Homo sapiens: one gene and its partners. The protein of the gene in region 4 purifies or fractionates together with the protein of the main gene of each other region. This does not show direct contact. Each region holds a gene or a part of one and is shown on either strand. Other genes may lie near its edges.

Region 1 (4,693 bases), on a different chromosome or scaffold from region 4:
GAGGTTGCAGTGAGCCAAGATCACGCCACTGCACTCCAGCCTGGGTGACAGAACAAGATTCTATCTCAAAAAACGAAACAAAACAAAACAAAACAGGTCATCTACTTTTAAGTTAACACATTTGTTCGGTAAGTAGGGCAACTTGCTGGGTGCCGTGGCTCATGCCTGTAATTCCAGCACTTTGGGAGGCCAAGGCGGGTGGATCACAAGGTCAGGAGTTCGAGACCATCCTGACCAACATGGTGAAACCCCGTCTCTACTAAAAATACAAAAATTTGCTGGGTGTGGTGGCACGCCCCTGTAATCCCAGCTACTCGGGAATGCTTGAACTAGGGAGGCGGAGGTTGCAGTGAGCTGAGATCATGACACTACACTCCAGCCTAGGGGACAGAGCGAGACTCTGTCTCAAAAAAATAATAATAATTAAATAAAAATAAAGAGGGCAACTTATATATGTACTGTTCAAGGTAGGCTTTTGAAATACCTTGAGAATAACTGCAATTGGACTAAATCCAGAACATCTTAAAGTCTAGAATTACTGGAAAAGAAGGTAGTGATGACAGAATTTTGTGAAGGCAATTAGACATGCCCAGCAGGCAACACGAATAATTAAGTTAACGGGAAAAGTTTTTTCATTTGCCTCCAATTTGAGACCTTAACTGAATTAACTACCAGTGCTGAATGGATTGATAGCCTACAGAACCCTTAATTATCTTACCCATTATAGATAAAGTAATGTCACACTTTTGCTGTTAACGGACCTTAAGTTTCTTTCTTACAGACCACAGTATCTTTTCATGGAGAGCTGTACTTTGAGAATACATATGTCCAGGGCTGGAGACTTTTCACTGTAATATATAGTTACACCTGTGCTGTCACAAGGTTCCTTAGGAACGAATAAGAAGTCAAAAGAACTAAGAAAGTGCCGGCCGGGCGTGGTGGCTCACGCCTGTAATCCCAGCACTTTGGGAGGCTGAGGCGGGCGGATCAACTGAGGTCAGGAGTTTGAGATCAGCCTGACCAACATGGAGAAACCCCGTCTCTTAAAATACAAAATTAGCCTGTAATCCCAGCTACTCGGGAGGCTGAGGCAGAAGAATTGCTTGAACCCAGGAGACCTCGGAGGTTGCAGTGAGCTGAGATCACGCAATGATTGCACTCCAGCTTGGGCGACAGAGTGAGACTCTGTCTCGAAAAAATAAATAAACTCAGAAATTATGACCAAATAAGAAGGAGGAAAATTAGTATATATCCTCCTATGTTTTCATATAATGTATATATATATTTTTTGAGATGGAGTTTCTCTCTCTTGTTGCCCAGGCTGGAGTGCAATGGTGCCATCTTGGCTCACTGTAACCTCTGCCTCCCGGGTTCAAGCAATTCCCCTGCCTCAGCCTCCCGACTAGCTGGGATTACAGGCATGCACCCCCACGCCCGGCTAATTTTTTATTTTCAGTAGAGATGGGGTTTCTCCATCTTGGTCAGGCTGGTCTCGAACTCTTGACCTCAGGTGATCCACCTGCCTCAGTCTCCCAAAGTGCTGGGATTACAGGCGTGAGCCACCGTGCCCAGCCGACACAAATATGTTTAAAGTCAAACACATTTCTACAGTATCAACAGTTGTGTAGTATAACCAGTTCTGGGAAGCTCCCTCTTAAGAATTCCTAACATTTCGTATGACAAATAGCAAGAAGATGAATACACTTTGTAGTTAAATCTTTATATATCCTTTATTATTTCCTTGATAAATTCCTTTCTTTTTTTTTTTAGAGACGGAGTTTCTCTCTTGTTGCCCAGGCTGGAGTGCAATGGTGCGATCTCAGCTCACTGCTACCTCCGCCTCCCGGGTTCAAGCAATTCTCCTGCCTGGGCCTCCCAAGTAGCTGGGATTACAGGCATGTGCCACCATGCCCAGCTAATTTTTTTTTTTTTTTTTTTTTTTTTGAGACAGAGTCTTGCTCTGTCACCCAGGCTGGAGTGCAGTGGCGCTGTCTTGGCTCACTGCAAGCTTTGCCTCCCGGGTTCACGCCATTCTCCCGCCTCAGCCTCCTGAGTAGCTGGGACTACAGGCGCCTGCCACCACACCCGGCTAATTTTTTTGTATTTTTAGTAGAGACAGGGTTTCACCGTGTTAGCCAGGATGGTTTCGATCTCCTGACCTCGTGATCCGCCCGCCTCGGCCTCCCAAAGAGCTGGGATTACAGGCGTGAGCCACCGCGCCTGGCCTAATTTTTATATTTTTAGTAGAGACAGGGTTTCACCATGTTGGCCAGGCTGGTCTCAAACTCCTGACATTGCATGATCCACCCGCCTTAGCCTCCTAAAGTGCTGGGATTACAGGCATGAGCCATCACACACGGCCAAGATAAATTCTTAAAAAAGAAAGAAAAAAAAAAAAGAGAGAAAAAAGAAAAAAGATAAATTCTTAAATGGAATTGCTGAACAAAAGTGTATCATGTACAATTTGTAAGGCCTTGAATAAATGCTGCCAAAGTAGCCTCTAGAAAGATTTTAACTGCAATGTACATTCCTTCTAGTTATATAAGGACTCATTTTAGGCATTTTAACAAATTCAAAAATACAGAATATTCTGATACCTCAGCAATAGCCCACTCATTTACAGAACAATTTTAGCATTATTATTTCACTGACCTTAACAACCTCTAGGATACGAACTGTACTAGCAAAATCATTTAACCGTCTGCATGCCCGCAAAGCAGCATCAATGATTTTGGGCTCTGGAACCATATCATAGGTAACAAGTGTGTTTATCCCTGCAAAATTAAAAAGAAGGGCCATGTCAACCTCGAAGAGCCTCACTTAAACTATGAGTTATTTATATTTTTACTGAATCACTGATGTATGATCTTATCTGTCTGGGTCTCCATTCTCTTACCTATAAAATGAGAGAAACCTACCTTTAACAAATTCTAGATAATAAGATCACAGTGGATCTCCCTTAGTGAATCAGTGGAAAGAAAGAACTATGCAACAGCACGCAGATTGAAGGAAAAAATCCTGAGTTTTTTTTTTCCCCTTTGAGAACAAGAGGGTCATTTTCAACTCCTAACTTTTTTTTTGGAGATGGAGTCTTGCTCTGTCACCCAGGCTGGAGTACAGTGGTGCCACCTCAGCTTACTGCAACCGCTGCCACCTGGGTTCAAGTGATTCTCCTGCCTCAGCCTACCAAGTAGCTGGGATTACAGGCGGGTGCCACCAAGCCCAGCTAATTTTAGTATTTTTAGTAGAGACGGGGTTTCAGCATCTTGGCCTGGCTGGCCTTGAACTCCTGACCTCGTGATCCACCTGCCTCGGCCTCCCAAAGTGCTGGGATTACAGGCATGAGCCACCACATCCGGCCCTCCTATCTTTAACTCTTAGTACAATGAACACATTTTGGATGCTTTAAAAGAGATTCAAGGCTGGGCTCAGGTGGATCACCTGAGGTCAGGGGTTCAAGACCAGCCTGGTCAACATGGAGAAACCCTGTCTCTATTAAAGATACAAAATTGGCCGGGCGTGGTGGCACATGCCTGTAATTCCAGCTACTCTCGAGGCTGAGGCAGGAGAATCACTTGAACCCAGGTGGTGGAGGTTGCAGTGAGCTGAGATCGCGCCATTGCACTCTAGCCTGGGCAATAAGAGAGAAACTCCATCTCAAACAAAACAAAACAAACAAACAAAAAAACCAAAATAAAAGAGATTCAACTGGAAAACAGCCTAAAAACAGCCAGAGAAATGCGTAGAGTTAATGAAGCCTAAATGAGGACATTAAGGAGATATTATAGAGAAACATTAGTACACAGACTCATAAACATTCAACCAGAAAATGATTGGGCATGATTACTTTCAGATCTGCACAAAATGACACATAATAAAATTTAAGATTCTCTTAATGGGAATACATAATTGTTCTTTTTATTACTTCTACTCCAGATTGTTCAGTAAGAATTCTATTGGTTGTAGCAAAAGGGAATCATTACATTTCTGCAGAGAAGTTTAAAGCACTTAGGTTTCTTGCTTTTATTACTTTAAAATATTTAAACAAAGGATACCAGTGAATACGATAGTCATTGAGATTGAATTTTTGGTATGAGATAAATTACCCTACACCTAATTCTATTTTTTCATGTTAAGTGTGCATCTGCAAATTTAGGAAAGACAAGTTCTAACTTACTTAGATACTTATTCATGGCAAAACAATGCAAAAATAACAAAAAACCCAAACCATCACCCAAAGGGGAAGGGAACCAAATGACTGCTTTGTGTAAATTCTTTTTTTTTTTTCTGAGACAGAGTCTCACTCTGTTGCCCAGGCTGGAGTGCAGTGGCGCGATCTCGGCTCACTGCAAGCTCTGCCTCCCGGGTTCACGCCATTCTCCTGCCTCAGCCTCCCGAGTAGCTGTGACTACAGGCGCCCGCCACCACGTCCGGCTAATTTTTTTGTATTTTTAGTAGAGACGGGGTTTCACCATGTTAGCCAGAATGGTCTTGATCTCCTGACCTCGTGATCCGCCCACCCTGGCCTCCTAAAGTGCTGGGATTACAGGCGTGAGCCACCGCGCCCGTGCTATGTAAATTGTTTGAAATGTACAAAACTGTTACCTTTTGCTCATCTAGCCTTATTGCTATAGCAGTGGTTTTCAATTAAGGGTGACTTCATCCCTCAGGAGACACTGGGTAATGCCTAGAA
Region 2 (4,103 bases), on a different chromosome or scaffold from region 4:
CGTGATGAAGAAGGCTCCCGTGCGGCTGCAGGAGTGCATTGAGCTCTTCACCACTGTGGAGACCCTGGAGAAGGAAAACCCCTGGTGAGGGGCCAGAGCGGGGCCTGTGTGTGGGGGTTTCATTGGATGGAACTACTATATTTAGCTTTTTTTTTTTTTTTTTGAGACAGAGTCTGGCTCTGTCAACCCAGGCTGAAGTGCAGTGGTACAATCTCGGCTCAGTGCAACCTCTGCCTCCCAGGATCAAGCTGTTCTCCTGCCTAAGTCTCCTGAGTAGCTGGGATTATAGGCACCCACTACCATGCCTGGCTAATTTTTATATTTTTAGTAGAAACAGGTTTTGCCACGTTGGCCAGGCTGGTCTCGAACTCCTGACTAAAGATGATCCACCCGCCTTGGCCTTCCAAAGTGCTGGGATTACAGGCGTGAGCCACCACACCTGGCCTATATTTAGCTCTTTAAGTATACCTTCCTCCTCCCTCCTCCACACTCAAACCCTTCTTGCCAACCTGGCCACCAATCTCCTGAGCAGACTCCTACCCCAGAGCCTTGGCCTGTGCTGTTCCTTCTCCAGGAATGTTGTTCCCAGTGATCTACAGGACTTCACTCCTTACGATGCTCAGGTCTCCGATCAAATGTGACCTCATCAGAGAGACCTCCTCTGACTACCCTGTTAAAAATCACCCTTCCCCACCATCCCTCTCCATCCCCTCTCTGCTCTTTTCTTCCTAGCCAAGCATTACTTTCTAGCTCAGCGATGCCACTTGATGTGATGTCCTGTATCCACTTTTGTGTTATTTGTCATCTTCGTTAGAGTCAACTCCTCGAGGGTGAAGACTTAAGTTCACTGTGTGTTGCTTCTACCTGTTTATAATAGTGTTGAGTGTTCGGTTGATGCTCAGTAGACACTTGCAGAATAAACAAAAAGAGAACCAAAACCACACTCCCTAGTCTCAGAAATAAGAGCAGCATGTCCGTGGAGCAGAAATGGAACAGAAATACAAAATAGTTCCAAAGGGTTAAACAAGCAATCAATAAATACTGGGGAGTGAATGAATGACTAAAATACGAAGAGAGGAAACTAGAAGGATAGAGGTGGGCTCTAAAATAAGACTAGCATCTCATGGAACAGAAATCAAACAAAAATACAAAAAATAGTATGAGCACATATACAAAAGATAGTAAGCACTTGACGAGTGAGTGAAAGGATTTTAACAGGAACAGAGCAAACTAGAATACTAGATGGGCTAATAGTAAGAGCAGTGTTTCTGTGAGCCAGACATGGCACGTGAGAGGCAGTACAAAGGGCGCACAGTAGGTGCTCAGAAAAAGTCTGTTTTGGCTGGGCATTGTGGCTCATGCCTGTCATCCGAGTACCTTGGGAGGCCGACACGGGTGGATCACCTGAGGTCAGGAATTCAAGGCCAGCCTGGCCAACATGGTGAAACCCTGTCTCTATTAAAAATACACAAATTAGCAGGGCATGGTGGTGCATGCCTGTAATTCCAGCTACTCGGGAGGCTGAGGCAGGAGAATCGCTTGAACCCAGGAGGTGGAGGCTGCAGTGATCCGAGATCGCGCCACTGTACTCCAGCCTGGGCAACAGAGCGATTCTCTGTCTCAAAAAAAAAAAAAAGAAAAAGTCCGTTTGCTGACTCGGGCTCTGTCTGTAGGTACTGCCCTTCCTGCAAGCAGCACCAGCTGGCAACCAAGAAGCTGGACCTGTGGATGCTGCCGGAGATTCTCATCATCCACCTGAAACGCTTTTCCTACACCAAGTTCTCCCGAGAGAAGCTGGACACCCTCGTGGAGTTTCCTATCCGGTCAGGGGCCAGGGAGAGGATGGCTGGGGGAAGGCAGGGAAAGGAGGGGGTGTACCAGTATTAACCCTCTCCCCACCCACAGGGACCTGGACTTCTCTGAGTTTGTCATCCAGCCACAGAATGAGTCGAATCCGGAGCTGTACAAATATGACCTCATCGCGGTTTCCAACCATTATGGGGGCATGCGTGATGGACACTGTATGTGCCAGGCTGTGGGTGGGGCCTGCCCTGGGGGTTCTGGGCAGGGGGGCGATCAGGACCTTCCCAGTGAGTGACTAGGGATGTGAGCCAGTGGTGAGGTTATCGTGGTGGGAGGAGTGACAAGAGTGAATCTGGACACTTCTGAGAGGCAGGAAGGGTAGGCGAGGATAACTCTCCTTCCCTTTCAGACACAACATTTGCCTGCAACAAGGACAGCGGCCAGTGGCACTACTTTGATGACAACAGCGTCTCCCCTGTCAATGAGAATCAGATCGAGGTGTGACTTCCATCCTACCTCCTCCCCTTCTTCCTTTCTGATTCCACCTCCCCACCCCCACAATCCACACTGACTCCTGTCCTCTCCCCACAGTCCAAGGCAGCCTATGTCCTCTTCTACCAACGCCAGGACGTGGCGCGACGCCTGCTGTCCCCGGCCGGCTCATCTGGCGCCCCAGCCTCCCCTGCCTGCAGCTCCCCACCCAGCTCTGAGTTCATGGATGTTAATTGAGAGCCCTGGGTCCTGCCACAGAAAAAAAAAAAAAAAAGCCCTCTCTGCAATCTCGCTTCTCGTGTCCGCCCCGCTTCTCTTATTCGTGTTAGGTGCCCCCGCCAGGCATTGCAGGCTTAGTCGTGGCTACTGTTCTCCTGTGCCGCTGCATCGCTCTCTCCCGGGAAAGAACAGGTCGTGTCTCCTCCTAGCAGTGCGCGCCCCGCCTGTGTTTGCCCTTCCAGCAGTGACCCTCCCTTCTAGTCTTTATTTATGGTCGTGCCCTTCCCTCTCCTCAGCCCAGAGTGTTCTGCGTGGGTGGTGATGGGGGTTCACCTGAACACAGAGTGTATTTTCTTATTGAGGCCCTGTACCTTCTGCTGTGTGTGTGTATATATAAAGCACCAGTCTGCTCCCCACTCAGCAGTGTGGTTTTTTCCTCCATGGACTTAACTAAGCACCAGTTTTGTGCCTGTGTTCTGTGTTCTTATCAAAGGCCAGATGTGTGATGGGTGCAGCTCTGAGTGGTTAGTGAGCACCAGCTGTGGGCTGGGTACTGCTGTTCTAAGTGCTTTGAAAGCACCCTCTGTGTGCCAGGCACGATTCCAAGCACCAATGGCATGCCCAGTTTTTTCCAAAATATTTTCCAAATATTGATACGTAATCCTCACAACAATCTCATGCAAGAGTTGTCATCTCCAGTTTCGGATGGGGATACTGAGGTACAGAGGTCACAGAATTGCTCAGGGCTTGTCAGGAGGTCAGTATACCTCATGTGCTACCCGAGTCGGTCCCTGGAGTGGGTGCTTGGCTTGTCTGGACCCAGGACTGCTACTCAATCTGCAGACATGAGCTGCCCTACAGGCAATGTGGAAATGGAGCACGTGGGACGGATGCATCCATGTGGGCAAATTTGTGGTTTGGGGACATAAAAATACTCCTCTCAGGCCAGGTGCCACCTGTTATCTCAACACTTTGGGAGGCCAAGGCAGGAGGATCACTTGGGCCCTGGATGTTGAGGTTGCAGTGATCTATGATCGTGCCACTGCACTCCAGTCTGGGCCACAGAGCAAGACCCCATCTCAAAAAAAGGATGCTATTCCCCAGACCACCTCACAGACCCCCAGTAGTGTCCTCTGAGAAGATTTTGTCCCCCTGAGACCTCCTTTGGAGATGGTACATGCATTTGGCAGACCAGCCAACCTGCCAGGACAAATGTGCTGTCTGTGTGTGGCCCCTGTAGTCAGCCCCCTCTCCCATCATGACCCCAGCTCCCACACCAGGCAGGTTCCCTCCAACCTCACCCCAGACGACACTGAACACCTGCCGCAGGAATTTGGACATAAATAAGCCATCCAACCCTTCACACTGATGGGTGAGGGGAATCCTGATCGGTGGCAGCTGAGAGGCCATTCTCATGGCCAGGGCCTCAACACTCCCCCCAGCCTTCTGCCTTTGCACTGGGTCTGGGCAGACCCACTGTGAGGGTCACTCAGCCCCAGCATCGCCACCCGCAAACCTCCCAGTCACTCTGCTGACACAGGCAGAAGTCAAGGCAGTTGCTGTGAGGAGCCCAGCTCAAACTGACTTAG
Region 3 (3,518 bases), on a different chromosome or scaffold from region 4:
TCTGACACCTCCCTCCCTTCCTTCTCTCTCTTGGGTGCTGCCTGCCCTTAGTTGTTAGGGAGGATTCTTCAGTGTAGTTTTGGGCAATGTGGGTCCCTTTTCTTTCTCCTCAGTTTCCTCATCTGCCAAGGGTTGGGTGGACCTGATGCTCTGACATTCTTCCAGCTCTAGTAGGGAGGGTTCTGCACAGCGGCCCTGATATTGACCACAGTCTGAGATTGCTCATGGCCAGTGGTCAGTCCAGACAAGACAATGAGACTACAAGGCTGATGGAAGCCAGAGAGCCTTGGTCATGTGGAAGGGTTATTAATACAAAAAGCCCATAGATCTAAAAGAAGGATGGGTCAATTTTGACAAGGATCCTGTTTGTGACACTAGAGAGGGGAGGGGTACAGGGCCAACGGGGAGAGATAGTCCCATTCGGCCACTGCCTGCAACCTTGTACCTCTCCAGGTTTGGCTGAAGGAGGGAAGGGGGGTTTCACTCAAGAACTGCAATGTCATATCCCAGATAGTCAAGGGTGCCTTCATTCTTACAGCTTGTTGGAGCCCCTCTGGAAATTGCTCCCAGATGTGAGCTTGCTTGCCTATAAACTGATCAAATGGGATGTAGGGGAAACTCAAGTCTTTTCACAGCTGAGGGGCAGAGAAAAATGTAAATTCTGCATTCAGGTTGGGCTGTGGTTGGCTAAGGTGACCAATGCACAAATGAGACATGACTTTGGCTTCAATTTAACTCAACATGGAACAGTAGGCGTAAGCCAGGGACCCCACACTCATCCACAGCATCCAGCCCTGCTTTCTCTCAATCTTGTTTTCTCATGTCAGATTATCTGCAAAGGTATTCTATCTCTGCACTCCCTCAGTCTGTATACTGAAAAGTGTACTGCCCTTCTGGATGCTGGGGCAAGGAGACAAGACGCTTAGAAAATTCACTTTAATCTTATATTTGTAATTTACTTTTTTTCTGAACAGTTAAAAAAAACCCAAAACACACTCCATTATCATGATCCTAGGTTGTGAACATATTGGTACACTGACTACACATCACCATAACATAATCACAAAAGTCAAAGCAGTCAGTACTTAAGAGTCTAGAGAACAAAGAGGTGAACCAGCTGAAAGCTCTCGGGGAAGCTTACATGTGTTGTTAGGCCTGTCCCATCATTGGAGTGCACTGGCCATCCCTCAGATTTGTCTGGGCTGGCCTGAGTGGTCACCGCTTTGAGAAAGCTGTTAGTTTCCTTGGTGCCCAGAGGGCTAACACCCTAGTTGGCCTTTTCCTTCAGTGTCCAAGAAGGGGAAGGGTTAGGAGGGGAGGTAACACTTTAAAATACGACTTAACTGCACTGATCCTTAATAAAACACACAACCAATCAGGAGCTAAGAGCGCCAGCTGTGCTGGTTGGAAAGCACATATTTTAGATGTCATCTGCCTCCAGGACATTTTAGATCACAGGTACTCAACTTCCAACAGAAGGAGCTTCTAAAGATCAATGCATTAAGTTCCACCTGAAACCAGGCAGCCATCATCATGCTCTTTTGATTTCTCTCTTCAGCTCCAAGGATTCTGACACCACAGATGAGCTAAAGAAGCGAAACTGTTTTATTCCCCTAAGAAATGGCTCTCTTTCCGATACTATGTTGACACTGTGGTTAAAGGAGGTCTGGTCTGTTGGTGAACAACTGTGTGGAGGAAGACCAGGGAGGCTGCACCCTAAGCCTCCGGGCTGCACTAATCTGGGTTGGACTGCTCTGCTACAGACTGGAGGGTGTTGCCATCTAAGGCAAAAGGGAGATGCTGAGAAGGTCAACAGTACCAAGGTATCTAGTCCAATTATGGGAAAGAAAAAAATTGCCCTGATTATTTCCAGTATTCCCCACCCCTCCCACCTTTGTTTCCCCACACAATCAAGTGCTAAGTAAGGAGTAGACCAACTACAGCTGTTCAGACCAATGGTACCAGGAGCCGGCAAGGGAAGAGTGCATTTTTTTTTCTCTGTAGCTTTAGACTGTACAGAAGAAAAATAAAAAAGGATTGTTCTTACTCAAGCAAAAAAACCAGAATGATGTAGGGGTCTCACAGACTTTTCTAGTTCGGAAACAAGTTATGAGGGCCAGACTTTTATTACTTGTCAATAGAGATCCAAAAAGAGTCCCTGTCTCTGAAGTTAGGAGACACCAGAAAGAATTTTGCCAAGGGACATGTACAAATGGCCTTCCATCCATGATTCACATCCTTTCAAATTGCACACCAAGTTAAAGGATGTTCTCAGCAGTGAAATACACACACGTGCAGCAAGGCATGCTGGTCTTGTCCAAGTAGCTCCAGTGTGCACCAAAAGGTCACGTGTCTGTACCTCCTCATCTGCCTTTGAAGGGGTTTCAGCCTGTCTTTAAGAAAGGTTTCCTTTAGGCCCTACGTTGGAAAGTAAATTTTAGTGAGAAGAGACTAATCTACAATGGGGACACCTTCAGCTCTGTTTCTACCACTCCTTGGAATGTGCTGAGACTTTGTCTCTCTTTTCGTTTTAAAAAGGTCAAACTTTACATTTATTCTAGCCCAGTTGGGGATTAGTGATAATCAATTCCCACTGAAATCATGCAGAGATGGTAAGTGGGGTTTACCTTCTCTGGAAATGAACTTTTAACTTACCTGATTATTTCTTCTACAACAAACTGGTAAATGACCCCCAGAGCTGAGAAATGTGAACGATTCAAGTTTTTCAGACCACTTAACTTCATTCCCATTTCCATCAGCAGGAGAGAGGACAACTTGGAGAATATCCTCAACTGGGCTAATGGCTCCACATCTGCAGGGGTCGCCCCGATCTCCTTTGTGATGTACTGGACATGTCTCAAAACAGTCTTAGAAACAATATTCCTTCAACTGAACCTAGATTGGAGAGCAAAACCCTGGGCACCAATAAACATTCAACAGCTTCCACTTTGTAATAGCAGCATATGACAGAAAGGCTGGTAAAATTATGGCTATTGGGCAATATTTTGAGACAGCTCGAAACCCATGCCTTTTAAATGTCTGACCTGTGTGTTTTTCAGGGCTGACAGCCCTCTACCTTCATCTATAGCAAAATCCTTACCCAATCAAAAAGCCATTAATAGTCAACACAATAGATGACGAACCCTGATAGTGGCCAAGTAGAAAACATTTCTCTGTAGCATTTGGGTAGCTGGGAAGGGAATTACATTGAGAAAATATTTCTTAGGCTACGATGTATCATTATACTGGGAAATATTTTCTGAATATAACCTTGAACTAAAAGCTTAAAAATACTCATAAAGCAGGAAAGGTAGAATGCATATGCATAAAATGACTCTCAATATGTAGTAACAACATTCAGTGGGTACACCTTGGGAAGAGGATACCTTCTTGCCTGGGGAGACCAGCTGGGTGCACATTAATAGTATTCTGTGTGCTCCCAGGTTGGTGTGGCACAGGTACCCTTGCACCTGAAGCCCACTAGCTTGGCAGCTCACACAGCTGCCTTCCGAGTGACT
Region 4 (4,693 bases):
ACAGTGAATTAAAATAAATTTGGAAAAGTCGCACAAAGGATACCAATTTAAAAATTCTAAAACTATTACTATAAGGTGTCTATTTTTCTTAAAATCCCTTTATTGATGCTCATGACCTAGAATATGAAACCTGTATAGGCCAGTAAAACTAAAGTTTCATTTTCTTGAACTTTTAAAACTCAATTGTTAGGAACTAAAAATCATTCTTCCTTCCTTTGCAATAAAAATTCTGAGTATTAGTTGTAAGCACTTGAAAAAGTCCAACCTAAGAATATTTATTAACTGTTTTCTCCTTATTCATTGTAAAAGGATATTAAACTTGAAATCTACCCATGACTATTTACATGGCTAAATAACTACAATTTTCCTACTAATAAAAGTAATGTCCGTAATGATTATACTCCAGAATTTCTCACTCTACAACCTATCATCTGTTCCTACACTTCGTCTATATAGATGTTAATTGTGCCATAGAAAACACATCTCAACAGGACTGAGGGCGCATGAGAGCCTCTTCTAACAGGAACAGCAGCAGCAATAGCTTTCATGTACTTAGTGAATCTACTATCTGGGCACTGTTCTAAATACTTTGCATAAATTTCCTTGAATCCTCACACTAACTCCATTAAGTAGAAATTATGAAGCTCATTTTACAGATGAGGAAACAGGCACTGTTTTGTATTTTACCCAATGTCACAAAACTAATAAAGTGGCAAAACAGGGATTCAATCCCCAGTCCGCCTGACTCCTAAACCCGTGCTCTTAGTCATTACACTATTAGCACCTCTCCCTCCTTCTACAGCGTGCACAAAGAATTGCTTATCAACAATGTGCGTGCAGAATAAAAATCAATGGAAGACTTTTAAGTATACAAAGCGTATAGTTCTAAATACAATCAAGAGAACAAAATAGAAGAATCAAAGATATAAAAGAGTTTCAATTAAAGAAAAATTTCTCCTCTATGAATAATAGGAATCCATCCTGATTTTCAGGTTAAGAGAAAAAAATTAGACTAGATAATATTCACAATGACAATCTACTCATCCTGATAGCTAAGATTTATTGAATGTTTTGTTATATAGGAACAGATCTGTAGGTACCTGACCACAAAACCTGGGCTCTTAACCACTATTGATTTCAAAGACCTTAACACACCACTAATTTGGAAGTCCTACATAGCAATGGAGAAAATGAGGAAAAGAACCAACAAACACATAATTTTACTATTGTAATAAGTTACATTAAAGACATGATCCAGACATGACAAAGTCCCCCAATTTTAAAACTTACCAATGAGCCCCTTTGTAGTACTTGATGCCACAGCTATGTGGGCAGGCATGGGGACAGGCTTGGTTTCTTCCGTAGTCACAGACGTTAGGCTACTGCTTTCGGCTTCAATGGAAACATCCTTTCCACCCCTCCGCTTTATTGTGCCTGTGTCACCTTCTGAGTCTTCTCCCCAGTAACCTGTGGAAGACGCCCAGCTTGCTCGGGACTGGGCTTGTTCAAGGCTCTCTCTACTTTGATTTTGCCTGTTATACTTTGTGCTATGATCAGAAAACATAATTTGGTCCATATGGCTGCTTGATGCCCATAAACCTGCAGGATCCCCTGAATAATCAAAGTGAGTATGCCCGAATGGAAGAGTCTCCCAGCTTCTCTGGTGCTGGATCGTCTGTATATTATCATGGGAGCCACTTGAGCATGACGTCCAGCTCCCACGGCCACTGTCAGCAGCATCAAGTGACGCGCGATCCCCCTGATCCTGGGAAAGTTCCTCTGTGCTTGGAGAAGAAATTACTGTAGCTGTAGCATATAAGCCTCGGCCCTCGGACATTGGTGCATAGGACCTAAGTGGTTAAAAGAAATGGAAAAGAAAAAAAAAACAAGATTGATAACTAATTCACCTATGATAAAACCAAAATACCCTTTTTCCTAGAAAGGTAGCTTGCTTTCATCCCAGAAACAGGATAAAAGTAGCACTGAATTGCCTTATATTGGCCAGTTCTGCCATGTCTAGCCTTCTGACTTTATCATTACTATAAAACAGGCATGCGGGAAAAGAACGCAACGTGCCATTAAAAAAAAAAAAATTCCCCGACAACATTAAGGGTGGCTCAATATAATTTGATTATTTCAGGAAGGCAGCTCATACGAAACAACTGGGATGGATCCTACAGTCACCCTCTGCCTTCAGCACAGAACAACTGTGTTCCAATGAAGAATAAACTTAACTAAAAAAGCAGTCTGCTTAACAAAAATAACATGATACTTAGTGTAGAAATTGTGAAAATCAGAACTGGGATGGCAGAAAAATTCTTAGGCATTATGTAAAATAAATAAAAACAAACACTGGAAGAAAAGACTCATTATTAAAACAGAGATGGAAGGATAAATTCAGAAGAATATTAAAAAGAGCCACCTACCCCAAGCTATACTGATCAGGTTCAATCATGGTCCGCCTCTCCATCCTGCCCATCCCTAGGTTTGTTTCCACGATGCTGACAGAATGCCTCTGGCGCCTCTCATCGTGCAGTGAGACTGGCACTGAGTCAAAAGACGAATTGCTAACAATACTGGATCGTGAAGAAATTTCACTGTGACCAGAATCTGAAAAATTATCCACAGTACCACTGGGAGCCAAAGTATAGCCTGCATGAGAAATACAACCGTATTAATTAGACTCTCTAGGTTTATAACATCAAAGGGAAGTCTACCAAATAGAAGCAAAAATAAAATGCAGGCATAGATATCTCTTAAGTGGGGAGAAAAACCCCATTTCACTTGTAGAGACCACATGACTAAGAGACAAATGTTTTATTCTAATGAAGCTTAAGTTGTTTAATCGAAGTTTAGAGAGGAAAAAAGAAAGTATCCTACAAGCTAGGAAAAGATGCAGAAAAGGCACCACTCAACTATTCTTAGCTCCCTTACCTATATAATTACACTATTAGTCTACAGAAAAGAAACCATGAAGAATAACGGATCAGATTTTAAAGTATGTTTTTTTCAAAATGCAAAGCCACTGATCTTGTTTTCAACAGTTTTCAATTTTTAGAACTTGTATGGCATAGACTAATTCAACTGGAAATACCTGTATCCTACCTACAATTTTAAGTAAACATATAAACAAAAAGAATAAGAAATAAGACCTGAAGATGTCTTTGAATTTTTGCCATTTGGTTTTTCAATATTAATATTGGTTGAACCACATAAAAGCCAATCGTTTTGAAGGAGTTAAAGGGCACTTTTCACAAGATCATTACTATAGAATATCTAAACAGATGTCCACTTCTTGGCCTGAAAGGACCCTTAACTCTCTTTTGCTACTAAAAATAATTTTGAAAGACACAATGGCAGGGGCCTATCTTGATTTTTTTGTTTTTGAGACGGAGTCTCCCTCTGTCACCCAAGCTGGAGTGCAGTGGCGGGATCTTGGCTCACTGAAAACTCCACCTCCTGGCTTCAAGCGATTCTCCTGCCTCAGCCTCCCGAGTGGCTGGGATTACAGGCATGTGCCACCATGTCTGGCTAATTTTTTTTTTTTGTATTTTTACTAGAGACAGGGGTTTCACCATGTTGGCCAAGCTAGTCTCGAACTCCTGGCCTCAGGTAATCAGCCTGTCTTGGCCTCCCAAAGTGCTGGGATTACAGGCGTAAGCCACTGCACCCGGCCCTATCTTGGTATTTTTAATGAAAAAAATCCAAATCTTCTTTCTCAATATTCATTTTTTCTTGTCTACATTACTAGGGATCTCATGTTACTTAAATATTGACTTTATCTTATATGCAATGCAAATTTCTTCAATGCCACTTACCTAAGAAAAATTAAAATCTAGAGCATCTAAATGTTGCCAGTTTAAGTATGTTCTTTCAGCATATTGGTAATTCCTGATTTATTTTTTAAAGGCTGCACAGGTCTTGATAAGATTTAATGTGTTCATTTATAAAATGTCTTTTTATAAAACCACACTGCAAGTTCTGACAGATAAGATTTAAAGCCCTCCCTGAACAGTCTGCTTAAAAAAAAAAAAGTTTCAGAAAAATAAATCACTCAGATGGAGCACTTGACATTTGGAGGAATTCTCCCATTTTCATTAACTAATGAGATGATTCCTCTCTTTCCCACCCCATTTTTGGTTCTATAAACCCCACCTATCCCATAGGTCCGTGGTGCATTGTTATTCTTGTTACTGTTCTCACTTCCAAGAGAAGAGGAGGAACTGGTTAAGTCCAACTGCCCGGAGCCAAAAGATCTCAGCTGATTGCCACTGCCACCTAACAACAGGATGAGAAAAGAATTGAGATGCATCCATGTAACAAGGACAGGAGAGACTGATACCCATACAAAATGCACAGATGTCTGAAATATCTACCAAGTAAAGCAATACCTGTTGAGTCAGTGAAATTTAACAATGTATTAAGCCCTTTTGGCTTTCCTTTAGGGAAAACTACGTCCTAGCCATTTATTATTGGCTTACACTCATTTAGTTAAAAGGGTAGGAGGAGGAAGTAGCCTGAAGAGTTATGCAGCAGAAAATTACCTACTCTTTTAATATGAGAATGTATCAACATAAGGAGGCGACTGAGTACCTAAAATATAGTCTCTAAAAATAAAACAAGGTAGCAACCAAAAAGGTAATCAAGACCTGTGTTAATACAATGAAAAAATAAATCAGGAAGATATTAGTTT
Region 5 (4,693 bases), on a different chromosome or scaffold from region 4:
ACCTGTAATCCCAGCTACTTGGGAGGCTGAGGCACAAGAATCGCTTGAACCAGGGAGGTGGAGGTTGCAGTGAGCCAAGATCATGCCACTGCACTCCAGCCTGGGCGACAGGGTGAGACTCTGTCTCAAAAAAAAAAAAAAAGACAGATTTTGAACTCAGCTTTACCCCTCACTAGCTACTTCATCCTAGTTTTACGTATCTGTAAAGCCAGATAACGCCCTACTTTGCAGGGTGCCATGCGGATTAAATGAGTTAATGTTTGTAGACGCTCTACAGACATGAGGACTCTTCCCCAGTAGCAGTGTTTTTTATGTGGGAGAGCGTATCCATCTCTGTGGGTGCTTTTTTTGTAGGAAGCAGTTCTTCTCCTCTTGTGACCATCTCTAAATCCATACCCTCACTCCTTCCCCAGCAGTGTGAGAAACAGTGCTTCAGTGAGAGGCTGTGCCTCAGAGGTGTGGAGAGGTGAGAATTCCTTCCATTGTGTTACAACTAATTCTGAGTCCCAATTGGTGTAGAAAAACCAAAGGTGGTTATTACATTTTACATTATGATAGCCAGGTATAATGGGAAGAGGCAGTTGGAGGGATTTGGAGCCAGAAATGTGGTTTGCACTTCTAGCATGTGAGTAAATTAAGTAAATCATTTATCCTCTCTGAACATCATCTTCCTTGTATATTAAATGGAACCGGGTAGGATTGTTCTGAAGGTTGGAGATAATATATGTAGAGTGCCTGGGACTTAGTAGCTACTTAGTAGATGTCACTTATTATTAATATCAAGAACCATGGGAGGAAGAAGAGGATTTGCAGAAAGGGGAGCTCAGCTTTGTAGCTACTGACTTAGACAAACAGTAATGAAGGAGCTCTAAAGCCAGTTGAAAATGCAAGACTGGCCTGGAGGCAGGGCTAGGACTGGAGTCAGGGGACTGCCTGACTTGTCCCTGGCCCCCCGCTCTGCCTCAGGGTAAAGACTGGATTGTTTTCAGCATAAACACACTGATCATAACAGGTTAGGTTACCCAGACTAAGGGTAGAACTGGATAATTATGTACATCTAGGGTACTATTTTTACACTTCAATTTTAACATATAATAATTATACATATTTATGGGGTACAGAGTTGTATTTCTACACATGTATAAAATGTAATGGTCAATTCAGGGTAATTAGCATATCTGTCTCCTAAACATTAATCATTTCTTTGTGTTGGGAACATTTAAAATTCTCTCCTAGCTGTTTGAAAATATGCAATAAATTATTGTTAACTATAGTCATCCTACAATGCTATAGAGCACTAGAATTTATTCTTCCTATCTAATGTAATTTTGTATCCATTCACCATCCTCTCTCCCTATCTCCCCTCCACTTCCCAGCCTCTAGTAACCACAATTCTAATCTCCACTTATGTGAACACAACTATTTTAGGTCCGCATACGAAGGAGAATGCGCGGTATTTGTCTTTCTGTGTCTGGCTTATTGCACTTAACATAATGTCCTCCAGGCTCATTAGGGTACTATTTTGCAATTTTCTTTTCTGTAACTGAAACACACACACACATATACAATGGAAATTAAAGCTGCTTTTTTTTTTAAGTCTCTTGAAACAATTTTTACCTGTATTATATGCACTAGACTTACGACTATTTAATTATATTTGCATTAACAAAGAAGTGCTGGACTGGGCTTAGTGGCTCATGCCTGTAACCCCAGCACTTTGGAAGACTGAGGCGGGTGAATCCTTCGAGCTCAGGAGTTCGAGACCAGCCTGGGCAACATGGTGAAACCCGTCTTTACCAGAAATACAAAAATAAATTACCCAGGTGTGGTGGCATGCACTTGTGGTCCCAGCTACTCTGGAGGCTGGGATAGGAAGATCACTTGAGCCTGGCAGGCAGAAGTTGCAATGAGCCAAGATTGCACCAGCACCATTGCATTCCAAACTGGGTAATAGAGTAAGACCCCATCTAAAAAAAAAAAAAAAAAAAAAAAAAGCTGCTTGGGACCTACTGAGTTAATTTCATGATTATTAGTGAAATCAATCTGAAAAATACAAATATTCTAGGGTATTGAACCAACTGGAAGTCTTGAAGTGTTTTAAAGAGACTATAACCGATGTTATGGAGAATTAAGATAAAGACAGAAACAACTTGTGAATTTGGCAACTAGGAGGTCCTTTGTGACTTGAGAGTATAATTTCCATGCAGTGATTGTGGTTGGAGGCCAGATCACAGAGGCCTAAAGAGTCAGCAGTGTCATAGCCAACAGATACAGTACTGAGTTCTGCTTGCCTTTAAGTCATTACATCCCCAAACAAACCTTAGGAGGGAGAAGCTGTTATTACCCTCAGCTTTCCATTATAGGTAAGGAAAGTTATTTTCAGATGGGCTAAGTAACTTGCCCAAGGCCACATAGTGATGGAGCGCATCCGTCTGACAGCACAGCCCATGCTCCTGTCTGCAAGTCACCATCAGTGGCTCTTTGAAAGCAAAGTGAGGAAGAAACATGTCAGTTGAGAGGGTGGCAGAGTGGAAAAGAAGGTTAGTGTGTTATGTGTGGTCATGTTACTGGGGCCTTGGAGATCACTTCGTTCTGCTTTTCATTTTGTAAATGAGGAAACAGGCCTCGAGGCGTAAGGATTCTTAGGCAGGGTCACACAGCTAGTTATGCAAAACTGAAACCAGATTCCAGGTCTGACGTCGGTATGGATCACCTTCAAGCACTGCGTAGAATTCTTTCGTTTTTACTTTTTACTAAAATTATTTTTAATATAGTACATTATTAATGGTATCTTAAGCCTTGGCCCTTCAGATATTGTTCAGTAAGAGTGACTTAGGGGCTTTTTTTTGTTTTTTGTTTTGGTAACAGGTTTATTGAGATTCAATTCACATGCCATAGGCAATTTACCCATGTAAAGTGTACATTTTAGTTTTAGTATCTTCAGAGAATTGTACAGTCATCACCAAACTCAATTTTAGAACATTTTTATCATCCCCAAAAGAAACCTTCAACCACTCCTCCCCTGTGTTCTCCCAACTCCCTAGCCAGCCCCGGGCAATCGCTTATCTACCTTCTGTCTCAACAGATTTATCCATTCTGGACATTTCCTATAAATGGAATCATAGAATGTGTAGTCTTTCATATCTGGCTTCTTTCACTTAGCATAATATTTTCATGTATCAATCAGTACTTCATTTCTTTTTTCTTTTTTCTTTTTCTTTTTGGTAGAGATAGGGTCATGATATGTTGCTCAGGCTGGTCTTTAACTCCTGTGCTCAGGTGATCTCCAGCTTCGACCTCCTAAAGTGCTGAGGTTATAGTTGTGAGCCACCATACCCAGCCAGTACTTCATTTTTTTTGGTTGCTGGCATTAGCCTTTTCTCCAAGGAACCTGGTTCTATTAAAGATTTTTTATTTGTCAGTCTATATGCTATTTATTAGGCATGGTGGCTAATGCCTGTAATCCCAGCACTTTGGGAGGCCGAGGTGGGCAGATCACGAGGTCAGGAGATCGAGACCATCCTGGGCAACATGGCAAAACCCCGTCTCTACTAAAAATACAAAAATTAGCTGGATGTGGTGGTGCGTGCCTATAATCCCAGCTACTCGGGAGGCTGAGGCAGGAGAATCGCCTGAACCCAGGAGGCAGAGGTTGCAGTGAGCCGAGATCGTGCCACTGCACTCCAGCCTGGTGACAGAGTGAGACTCCATCTCAAAAAAAAAAAAAAAAAAAAAAAAAGTTACTGTTTTCTATTAGTAATTTATTCATTTGTTTTGATCATTATGGGTTCAACATCTCATTTTGTTTGAGGGGTTGTAAGTCATACTATTATTTATTTTGATGTTGAGATTATTTCAACTTTGGCCCATGAGAGCTGCTTCAAGTTGGCTTCCATGGCATTTTGACATGTTCACGATTCTTTGAGCACTTTACTACTTTGTGATGCGGGATTATTCTAGGCTCATCTTCTGTCTCTCTTGCTATAAGCCTGTTCTCCAAGGAACCCACGCTCTTTTAAATATTTTTATCCATTAATCTGTTTACTCATCTGTTAATCTATGAAAAACCATGAGTTTCTCCTGATACCTTCAATTCCAGCCTAATACCACAGGGCTCATTCTTCCCCCTTTCATGTTTGTAACTTACTTCCCAGAAGTTAAGAACCTGGCTCTCATTACCCTCAATATGTTTACTCCTTTTCTCAATCCTAGAGGTCACATAAGATAGTCTCAGAATTGCTAGCCCATACCACTACAGAAAACAAACCTGCTAACTGGAATTGAATATTTTTGTACAATGCCTATTAAGTGAAATGGGTATACATGGAGTGCAGATTTTAAGTATACAGTGCAAAGAGGGAGTATTTCTTTTCTTTTTTTTTTTTTCTTTTAAGACAGGGTCTCGTTCTGTCTCCCAGGCTGGAATGCAGTGGCATAATTATAGCTTACTGCAGCCCTGATCTCCTGGGCTCAAGTGATCCTCGTGTCTCAGCCTCCTGAGTAGCTAGGACTACAGGCACCTGCCGCCACACCTGACTAATTTTTAAATTTTTTTTAAGAGATGGGATCTCACTATGTTGCCCAGGCTGATCTCAAATTCCTGGGCTCAAGCAATTCTCCCACCTCAGCCTACTGAGTAGCTGGGACTACAGGTGTGCCTCACTGTAGCTGGGACTACAGGTGTGCATTGCCA
Region 6 (4,693 bases), on a different chromosome or scaffold from region 4:
TTCTGAACAAAATGTAGGTTTGGAGCAAAAGGACTGCTAAGCTATATGGCTTCACCAACAATTCACTCCTACATAACTGCATTTCTTTTAAGGAAAAAGTTAGCCGAAGGCCCAATCTTAGCATTTACAGACTTATCAGGTAGAGTATGACGTTTCAACACTTTAGGTGGAAAGGGCGCAATTACATGAAAGAGAAGAAAAAGAAGGCAATGTTCTAAAACAAGTAAAAGTCAGAGTTGGACCCTGATACAAGTTTATACAAAAACAGTGTTGTTTCTTTTCTTGCACATAATTAGAATCTTCTTTAACTAAAAACACACACAAAAAAGATTATACTTGAGTCTTAACAGTCAACATAAGAATTGCTTACCTTGCAGATTATAAGCTGCCAATTGCACTGCTGTATCAAAGGGACAGTCTAATCTGAGACCAAAACACAAGTTTGTTAGACAAGTTGATTTCATAACCTTCATTTTAAGACAAATGAAAATAATACATGTTTTATGTTGACCATTTCTTTTTTACAACTATAAACTTATTTTCAAAATAATTTTTCAACCACTCACGAAAATGTGCATTTATCCTTAAATAACTAATACTCACTTTCCACTGAGAATATCTTGTTTTAACTGAAGAACAAATAAATACCTAAGAAAAATGAAAGGCACAAATTTAACCCAACAGCACAATCGACTGTGAAAAAAAATCTTACACTTCTAACTTGAGAAGTATTATTTCATTAAAAATTACTTGTATTAATGTATAAAAGATGTGCATAGTTTGGGGATACATGAAATAATTGAATACATTCATATAATTTGTAAGGATCAAGTCAGTATACGTGGGGTATCCATCACCTTAAATATTTTTCTCTTCTTTATGCTAGAAATATTTGAATTATTTTCTTCTAGCTATTCTGAAATGTAAAATACGTAATTGTAAACTATAATCACCCTACTGATCTAACACTAGATCTTAGAAGTATTCTTAATTAAAGGCCTGGTGCAGTGGCTCACACCTATAATCCTAGCACTTTGGGAGGGCGAGGCGGGTGGATCACTTGAGGCCAGGAGTTCAAGACCAGCCTGGCCAACATGGCGAAACCCCGTCTCTATTAAAATACGCAAATTGGCTGGGGGTGTGAGCACGTGCCTGTAATCCCAGCTATTTGGGAGGCTGAGGCATGAGAACTGCTTGAACCTGGGGGAACAGAGGTTGCGGTGAACTGAGAACATGCCATTGCACTCCAGCCTAGATGACAGAGCGAGACATCTACTTGTTATGTGAAGGGATACAGACATGGATATAACTACAGATGATAGCTACTATCTCATTGTCAAGGTGTTCTAAAGGAAACCCTTCTAAAGGAACTCAAAAGCTCAACTTTTTCATTTAATAAATAGTATGTGTATATGGAGCAATGAATTTATAATAGAGACCATGAATAAATACAAAGGAGGCAGGATAACATTAAAATAAGTATATACAACATAAGGTTTATTCAAAACTATTCAAACCAATCAGAATCTAATGTTTTTCATTAATCAATGGCATTTCAATGAGTAAAGAAAGTTGGGCGCCAATTTGAATAAACTCCCTGTGGCCAAAGATAGATTATTTTCAACATCAATAAATATAATATTGCAATGTATTGAAACATGTGAATCCTGTTAACATTCCTGAGTTGAGAGTGATACTTAAAAAAAAGAACTCACTAGTCACCTTTGGAGGATGCTAAGAAACCAACTCTTTATTTTGAAAATGCTAAAGGAAAAGAATCATACACTTAAAAAACACGTCCCAGAATAAAATTCTATTATTTGAGGTCTTGTTACCAGGGGACAGGAATCCATTTTATTAGCTGGCTATAAATTGGAAACAATATAAAGACAGTCTTTCAAAACTATCAAAATAACCCTGGCACAATTCTAGATGGTGTTCTTACCGGGTTAGCTCCTCACGAAGGTTATTTGGTTCTGAGGAATAAAACTTAACTCGAAGATGCAGACAATAGGGTGAACCAACTGTCATTTAAAAAAAAAAAAGGTTTTAATAAAATAAACTACTTAAATAATACTTTTCAGCCAGAAAACTGGTCAAAAATCTACTGAAGTGAGACAAAAGATGAGGTTTTTATGGCATTATTGCAGGTTAGATCATAGGCTTCAATTAGATTGTTTTTTAATGTACCAAGCCATCATATTACTATTAACTCTCATCCCAAGAATAGACAGCTATAGATTAATTCTAACAGTTCAGAGCCAAATGCATCAAATAAAAGTCTTGACTGTGCAACCTAACAGCCCTGAAAACCTGCTACACTGAAGAATGCCTATGTTATTAACTGCTCATGGTGAATCTTCCCACACAAATACAATTCAGCAAGTTCACTAACTTCTATAATCTCAGTGGTCTCATTATTTTGAGACAAGAGTTGAGGTGCCCTAATAAGTCTGATAAAAAGTCAAGTTGGATAATGAATAAACAATGGTATTCTCTCTCTGAATGACACTAACATTTTATGTGAATTGTTTCATTTTTCTTAATTTTAAAATATCACAAAGTCTCAAAATACTTTCAATATTAGGGCAGATGCCAAACAGGAAAATTCCAACACAACTAATTAAAAAATAACCATTAAGCATTTCGGGGAAAGTCAATCCCATTTGCAAGCTGCAAGGTTTTCTCCTGGAAAGTTAAGCCCCAATGCAGTTTAATCTAGATTAGTATCAAGCCTACATGACTTGGGGAGTAGCTCAGTGTATCAGAATAAAATAATTTCTAGAAAATGGAAATGCTAAAAAACTCATCTGAAACATGATTTCTTACATCCTATTAGAAATCAGAATTTCTAATATATTCTATTTCCTTTCCCCCCCACAAATAATTTTGTCTGCACTTACTTTTTACTTGCTTTTTGATGCTTTTTGTACCATCCAACCAATGCTGAAAAACAAAAACAAAAATTTAGTTAAGCAGATGACAGAACTTTAAAATTTGAATGAATTACTAAAAGTTACTTTTCATTGTGCCTACACTGATAACCGCAAGGAAATACTTCACAAGAGAAAAACCCAAGTGAATGAGAAAAGAGGTGAGAAGGAAGAGTATCTAGCCAATATCCACCATAGCAAGCTTATGACACACGTGAACAAAAACGACCTAAAACCTGACAGATGACTTTTTTTTTTTTTAAATACTTTAAGTTCTGGGATACATGTGCAGAACGTGCAGGTTTGTTACGTAAGTATACACATGCCATGGTGGTTTGCTGCACCCATCAACACATCATCTACATTAGATATTTCTCCTAATGGTATCCCTCCCCTAGTCCCTCACCCTCCCAACAGGCGCCAGTATGTGATGTTCCCCTCCCTGTGTCCATGTGTTACCATTGTTCAACTCCCACTTATGAGGAAGAACATGCAGTGTTTGGTTTTCTGTTCCTGTGTTAGTTTGCTAAGAATGATGGTTTCCAGCTTCATCTATGTCCCTGCAAAGGACATGAACTCATCCTATTTTATGGCTGCATAGTATTCCATGGTGTATATGTGCTACATTTTCCTTATCCAGTCTATCATTGATGGGCATTTGGGTTGGTTCCAAGTCTTTGCTATTGTGAACAGTGCTGCAATAAACATATGTGTGCATGTGTCTTTATAGTAGAATGACTTATAATCCTTTGGGTATATACGCAGTAATGGGATTGCTGGGTCAAATGATATTTCTGGTTCTAGATCTTTGAGGAAATCACCACACTGTCTTCCACAATGGTTGAACCAATTTACACCCCCACCAAAAAAAGCATTCCTATTTCTCCACATCCTCTCCAGCACCTGTTGTTTCCTGACTTTTTAATAATGGCCATTCTAACTGGTGTGAGATGGTATCTCATTGTGGTTTTGATTTGCATTTCTCTAATAACCAGTGATGATGCGCTTTTTTTCATGTGTTTGCTGGCCATATAAATGTCTGCTTTTGAGAAGTGTCTGTTCATATCCTTCACCCACTTTTTGATGGGGTTGTTTTTTTCTGGAAAATTTGTTTAAGTTTCTTATACATTCTGGATATTAGCTCTTTGCCAGATGGATACATTGCAAAAATTTTCTGTACATTGTACATTTTGTACATTGCCTGTTCGCTCTGATGATAGTTTCTTTTACTGTGCAGAAGCTCTTTAGTTTAATTAGATCCCATTTGTCAATTCTGGCTTTTGTGGCCACTGCTTTTGGTGTTTTAGTTTGAAGTTTTTGCCCATGCCTATGTCCTGCATGGTACTGCCTAGGTTTTCTTCTAGGGTTTTTATGGTTTTAGGTTTTACACGTTTAAGTCTTTAATCCATCTTGAGTTAATTTCTGTATAAGGTGTAAGGAAGGGTCCAGGTTCAGTTTTCTGCATATGGCTAGCCAGTTTTCCCAACACCATTTATTAAATAGGGAATCCTTTCCCTATTGCTTGTTTTTGTCAGGTTTATCAAAGATAAGATGGTTGTGGATGTGTGTTGTTAATTCTGACGCCTCTGTTCTGTTCCATAGGTCTATATATCTGTTTCAGTAGCAGCACCATGTTGTTTTGGTTACTGTAGCCTTGTAGTATAGTTTGAAGTCAGGTAGCGTGATGCCTCCGGCTTCGTTCTTTTTGCTTAGGAATGTCTTGGCTATACGGGCTCTTTTTCAGGTAGCTTGATGGGGAT
Region 7 (4,515 bases), on a different chromosome or scaffold from region 4:
ACTATTCCTGCCGAGCTGAGAGAGAGGCAGTGTGGTGACCAGGACTTGTAGCAAGACCAGGAGTTAGATCCAGAGAAGGCTCTTCTCTGGGAGACCCTGGGATGACTTTGAGAAGGGGTTGAGGCTCAGGATGATGTGGGATGAGGCCAGTGGGGCACTGCCTGGTGGCAGGTGAGCCAGCCTTGCCCCTTCTCCGTGTAGGTCCTGGCCTGGTCAAGTGGGGACAGCTCAGGGGCCATGAAAAAAGCTGAGGCATCACTGGCTAGAGCGTACCCCATGGACAGCTCCCTTTCTGCCCCTCATCTCCTGAAAAGATAGGTTTTCTCCAGGAGTCACAGCCCCTCGGGAGAATCCTCCTCCACCCTGGGGTCAGCCGGGGAGCAGAGGGTGGGAGGCGGGGGCACAGCCTCCTGGGAAGCATTCCCAGCTGCTGAGCCATGGCCCATAACTGGTGTGGCTGCCAGCAGTGAGCTCAGCTGTTCCAGCCAGTCATGGATTCCAGCCTTGAGCCGGCCCCCTCCCCGAAACGGTGTGCCGTCCCCCTCCTCCAGCTCTGGCCTAAACCAAGCGCCCCTTCACCTGCACCGTTCATAGGAGTGATCTGGGGCTGCCTCAGCGTCCTTCCTGTTAGGAAGGCAGGGCTCCTGAGGGCTGCAGAGGAGAAGTCATTCTCTCCTCACAGGCCCTTTAATGCCTCAGTTTCCCCAAGTGAGCAGTTAGAAGGAATAGGGAGTCTCATACCCTAAGACTGGTGTGGAAAGCGTTTGGAGTTCTAGAGCTTCGGGGCAGCTGTGAGGAGGCCTTCTAGGGGGGATGGGTCAGGGGCATATGTGGGACAGGCACTCTGACCTCCTCTGCCCACCCCTGAGAAAGCTGAATGAGGCAAGAGATAGCGAGAGGGGGTACCCTCCCAGGGTTTGGGGTTCAAGGTCTGAGCTGGGGCCTGGGCAGGCAGGAGGCCGGCCAGCAGGGCTGGTGCCAGGCTGCGTCAGCCAGGGCAGAAAGGCTTCATTGTTGGTGGTGGAGAGGGCTGTCCTGCTCCTACGTGGTGAGGGGCCTCGAAGCTGATGGGGTCAGCAGGAACCTGGCTGGTCAAGGCCTAGAGCTGGTGGGAAGGGGTGTAAAGCCACAGCCTCTGAGGGTGTTGGGTGAACAAATGCCCTGCATCCTGGCCGGCTGGCTGCCCCTCACCATCGTCTCCCTCCATCACCTCTCCAGGTCTCTGCCCCGACTGGGAGGCCTGGGACCCCAACCAGCCCGTGGAGAACGCCCGGGAGGCCATGCAGCAGGCCGACGACTGGCTTGGGGTGCCCCAGGTACATGCGCAGATGGGGCAGGGGGGAAAGGGGGCAGGGGCAGAGGTTGGGTCTGTAAGTTTACCTGGCCAGGGTGCAGGGGGAGACTGGGGCTGCTGGGAAAAGAGGGCGCCATGTGACATCACTCCTTTCCATCGCAGGTCATTGCCCCTGAGGAGATTGTGGACCCCAACGTGGATGAGCATTCTGTTATGACCTACCTGTCCCAGTTCCCCAAGGCCAAGCTCAAACCTGGTGCCCCTGTTCGATCCAAGCAGCTGAACCCCAAGAAAGCCATCGCCTATGGGCCTGGTATGTGTGAGCCCCTGGCGGCCCTCCTGGGCAGCTGGGCACATGTAGGCTCTCCCTGAGTAACCTGGGCTCTGCTCCTGCCCCGTAGGCATCGAGCCACAGGGCAACACCGTGCTGCAGCCTGCCCACTTCACCGTGCAGACGGTGGACGCGGGCGTGGGCGAGGTGCTGGTCTACATCGAGGACCCTGAAGGCCACACCGAGGAGGTATGCAGAGGCCGCTGGGGACAGAGGGATTCACTTGGGATTGGAACCAGAGAGCGTGGGGCCAACAACAGGAATGGCCCGGAGGTGACTGCCAGAGCCACACACTGTGCTGTGCAGTCTGGGGAAGGTGTCACCATGGGGGCTGAGTGGGGCTGGGGTGCATAAGGCACTGTGGGGTCAGGAGGGGCTATGGTCATTGGAGAGGCTTCCAATCTTTTTCCTTCCTAATAGGCTAAGGTGGTTCCCAACAATGACAAGGATCGCACCTATGCTGTCTCCTATGTGCCCAAGGTCGCTGGGTTACACAAGGTATCTCCCTCTAGGCCCCCCTGCCTGCGCTGCTCTTCACATCCTTGGTTCCGGCTGCATGGACCCCTCTCTCAGCCTGTACCTCGCGCCTGCCCAGAGCCCCAGCTGCCCGCCTCTCACCCTCCTTGGCCTGGCTGTGCCCCTCTGCCCCCTCTCAGGACTGCTCTCCCCTAGAAGCTAACCTTTGACCTCTGACCCCTAGGTGACCGTGCTCTTTGCTGGCCAGAACATTGAACGCAGTCCCTTTGAGGTGAACGTGGGCATGGCCCTGGGAGATGCCAACAAGGTGTCAGCCCGTGGCCCTGGCCTGGAACCTGTGGGCAATGTGGCCAACAAACCCACCTACTTTGACATCTACACTGCGGGTAGGACGGGCCCCAGGGGGTGCAGGTGGAAAGCCCCTGACCATGTGGGGCTGTGTGGGGGTGGGGGGAGGCTGGGACAGGGATGCCAGCCAGAGGGTGGGCAGCCTCAGGGTGAGGGCACCGGGGCAGCTGTGTGTGTCCAGAGTGGTGCTGACAGCCTCTGTTTTCGGCAGGGGCCGGCACTGGCGATGTTGCTGTGGTGATCGTGGACCCACAGGGCCGGCGGGACACAGTGGAGGTGGCCCTGGAGGACAAGGGTGACAGCACGTTCCGCTGCACATACAGACCTGCCATGGAGGGGCCACATACCGTGCATGTGGCCTTTGCGGGTGCCCCCATCACCCGCAGTCCCTTCCCTGTCCATGTGTCGGAAGGTAAGGGCCCTTCACTGCTCCCCACGGTAGCCCTTACCAAAGCCAGAGGCTTGCAAGGGGCAGGAGGAAGAGCTGGGGCGGGGGTCTGCAGAGACCCCCTCCCTGAGTCCTCCATCCCACCCCCAAGGTGGCTGGAGTTCCTAAGAGCACAGCTGGGAGGCCACAGTGAAGGGTCCCAGAACATGTGCCACCCTGGGAGGGCTGAGCGGAAGTGACGGGGCTGTATGGGTGGGGGCATATCTAGGGAGTACTGCCTGCATGCCAAGCCCTCAGGTGGTGACTGCCCCACTTGTTCTCTCCCTGCACTCAGTGCCCATCGTCCACCAGGCCGAGAGTGATGCCACATTAATGCTCTCCAGTGGAGGCGGGGCCAGGCATGGCCGCAGCTGACTGGCCTCACCTGTGCTGTGTGGCATGGCCCGGGCCGTGTGGAATCGCCCCCCCTTCCTTGGCATTCTGTGGCAGGCCCCAGGTTCCATGCCGTTGTCTGTGTTCTGTGGCAGGTCTAGTGTCTTTGCCACTTGCCTGGTGATTTCTATGATGAAATCTGGGCTCTGAGCCATTGCCTGTGTTCCGTGGTACCCCTTGGGCAGTGCCATCGCCTATGGTCATGGTAGTCCTGGAATATGTGTCGTGTCCTGTTTCGTAGCACCTGTGGGTCCCATGCCATTTTTCTGGATTCTGTGGCAGGCTGAGATTCCCATTCCTTTGCCTGTGTTCCATAGCAAGGCCTGGGCTCATTGCCACTGGCCACGGTCTGTGGTAGGCTGATGTCCACACGTTGCCTGTGTTGTATGGCAGGCTTCGAGTTCTATGAAGTAGCCCTTGTTCTGTGGCATTGCTGGATGTTTTGTGGCATGACTTAGATCCTAAGGTTGCTTTGGTGCCCTGAGAGGCCCAGAGGGCTCTAGATGGATGGCCTTGGGCTGGGTAAAGGGGCCTTCCCTGTCTCTCTGAGCCCACTCTCAGCCCAGGCTCTGCCATGCATTTCCCCAGTGGCACTGGCTCGGAAACTTTCTTGTAACCTGCCTGATCTGGGGCCTGTAGCCAGCTCCAGCCCGGCAGCCCCGGTTGTGCTGGGGACACAAAGGGCTCCAGAGCAGGGCCGTGGGCCACTGCCTGTGCCTGGGAGGGGTTAGAAGGACTGTGCACAGGGAGGTGGGGGCTAGTGGTCCAAGGCCCCTCAGCACCCCCAACCTCCTTTCTCTTCCTCCCCTAGCCTGTAACCCCAACGCCTGCCGCGCCTCTGGGCGAGGCCTGCAGCCCAAGGGTGTTCGCGTGAAAGAGGTGGCTGACTTCAAGGTGTTTACCAAGGGTGCCGGCAGCGGGGAGCTCAAGGTCACGGTCAAGGGGCCAAGTGAGTGCCAGAGCCCAGGGTCGTGAGGGTGGGGCTGGGGGATCATAAGGGAAGTATGGCCAGTGGTTCTGACTCCCAGAGGGCAGTGACAGCCAGCACCACAGCTCCACAGTGACCAGAGGCACCCCAGAATCTCAGGCTCATTGTCTCCTCTCTGCCTCAGTTTCTTGGTCTACAAGCCAGGAATGATTCTCTCCACCCTAAGTGCTATACGGGGTGTTATGCACAGGGATGACAAGTGTTCCCTGCCCTGAGTTGCAGCACTGCTCACTACAGCACTGCCCTCGGGCTGGGTC

The links.
Region 1: the proteins of RAPGEF2 (region 4) and COX5A purify together in Homo sapiens (affinity purification with mass spectrometry; one large-scale study listed by BioGRID and IntAct). This does not show direct contact.
Region 2: the proteins of RAPGEF2 (region 4) and USP11 purify together in Homo sapiens (affinity purification with mass spectrometry, with the first as the bait; one large-scale study listed by BioGRID). This does not show direct contact.
Region 3: the proteins of RAPGEF2 (region 4) and BTRC purify together in Homo sapiens (affinity purification with western blotting; 3 studies listed by BioGRID, with this or other methods). This does not show direct contact.
Region 5: the proteins of RAPGEF2 (region 4) and MESD purify together in Homo sapiens (affinity purification with mass spectrometry; one large-scale study listed by BioGRID and IntAct). This does not show direct contact.
Region 6: the proteins of RAPGEF2 (region 4) and EPB41L5 purify together in Homo sapiens (affinity purification with mass spectrometry, with the first as the bait; one large-scale study listed by BioGRID). This does not show direct contact.
Region 7: the proteins of RAPGEF2 (region 4) and FLNC purify together in Homo sapiens (affinity purification with mass spectrometry, with the first as the bait; one large-scale study listed by BioGRID). This does not show direct contact.

What each region holds. Positions count from the first base shown.
Region 1 is NC_000015.10:74,924,114-74,928,806, forward strand, and holds part of COX5A (cytochrome c oxidase subunit 5A, mitochondrial precursor), read right to left. Parts: intron 2,775-4,693; coding exon 2,653-2,774; intron 1-2,652. UniProt on the Homo sapiens protein: Component of the cytochrome c oxidase, the last enzyme in the mitochondrial electron transport chain which drives oxidative phosphorylation.
Region 2 is NC_000023.11:47,245,399-47,249,501, forward strand, and holds the end of USP11 (ubiquitin carboxyl-terminal hydrolase 11), read left to right. Parts: coding exon 1-84; intron 85-1,673; coding exon 1,674-1,823; intron 1,824-1,905; coding exon 1,906-2,021; intron 2,022-2,212; coding exon 2,213-2,301; intron 2,302-2,394; coding exon 2,395-2,532; 3' UTR 2,533-2,930; downstream 2,931-4,103.
Region 3 is NC_000010.11:101,554,726-101,558,243, reverse strand, and holds the end of BTRC (F-box/WD repeat-containing protein 1A), read right to left. Parts: 3' UTR 931-3,518; downstream 1-930. UniProt on the Homo sapiens protein: Substrate recognition component of a SCF (SKP1-CUL1-F-box protein) E3 ubiquitin-protein ligase complex which mediates the ubiquitination and subsequent proteasomal degradation of target proteins. Recognizes and binds to phosphorylated target proteins.
Region 4 is NC_000004.12:159,350,644-159,355,336, reverse strand, and holds part of RAPGEF2 (rap guanine nucleotide exchange factor 2), read right to left. Parts: intron 4,279-4,693; coding exon of another isoform or gene 4,156-4,278; intron 2,653-4,155; coding exon 2,427-2,652; intron 1,851-2,426; coding exon 1,291-1,850; intron 1-1,290. UniProt on the Homo sapiens protein: Functions as a guanine nucleotide exchange factor (GEF), which activates Rap and Ras family of small GTPases by exchanging bound GDP for free GTP in a cAMP-dependent manner.
Region 5 is NC_000015.10:80,982,941-80,987,633, reverse strand, and holds part of MESD (LRP chaperone MESD precursor), read left to right. Parts: intron 1-4,693. UniProt on the Homo sapiens protein: Chaperone specifically assisting the folding of beta-propeller/EGF modules within the family of low-density lipoprotein receptors (LDLRs).
Region 6 is NC_000002.12:120,071,431-120,076,123, reverse strand, and holds part of EPB41L5 (band 4.1-like protein 5), read right to left. Parts: intron 2,947-4,693; coding exon 2,904-2,946; intron 2,025-2,903; coding exon 1,946-2,024; intron 649-1,945; coding exon 604-648; intron 424-603; coding exon 371-423; intron 1-370. UniProt on the Homo sapiens protein: Plays a role in the formation and organization of tight junctions during the establishment of polarity in epithelial cells.
Region 7 is NC_000007.14:128,835,942-128,840,456, forward strand, and holds part of FLNC (filamin-C), read left to right. Parts: intron 1-1,218; coding exon 1,219-1,316; intron 1,317-1,456; coding exon 1,457-1,607; intron 1,608-1,695; coding exon 1,696-1,814; intron 1,815-2,045; coding exon 2,046-2,123; intron 2,124-2,325; coding exon 2,326-2,488; intron 2,489-2,661; coding exon 2,662-2,862; intron 2,863-4,081; coding exon 4,082-4,219; intron 4,220-4,515.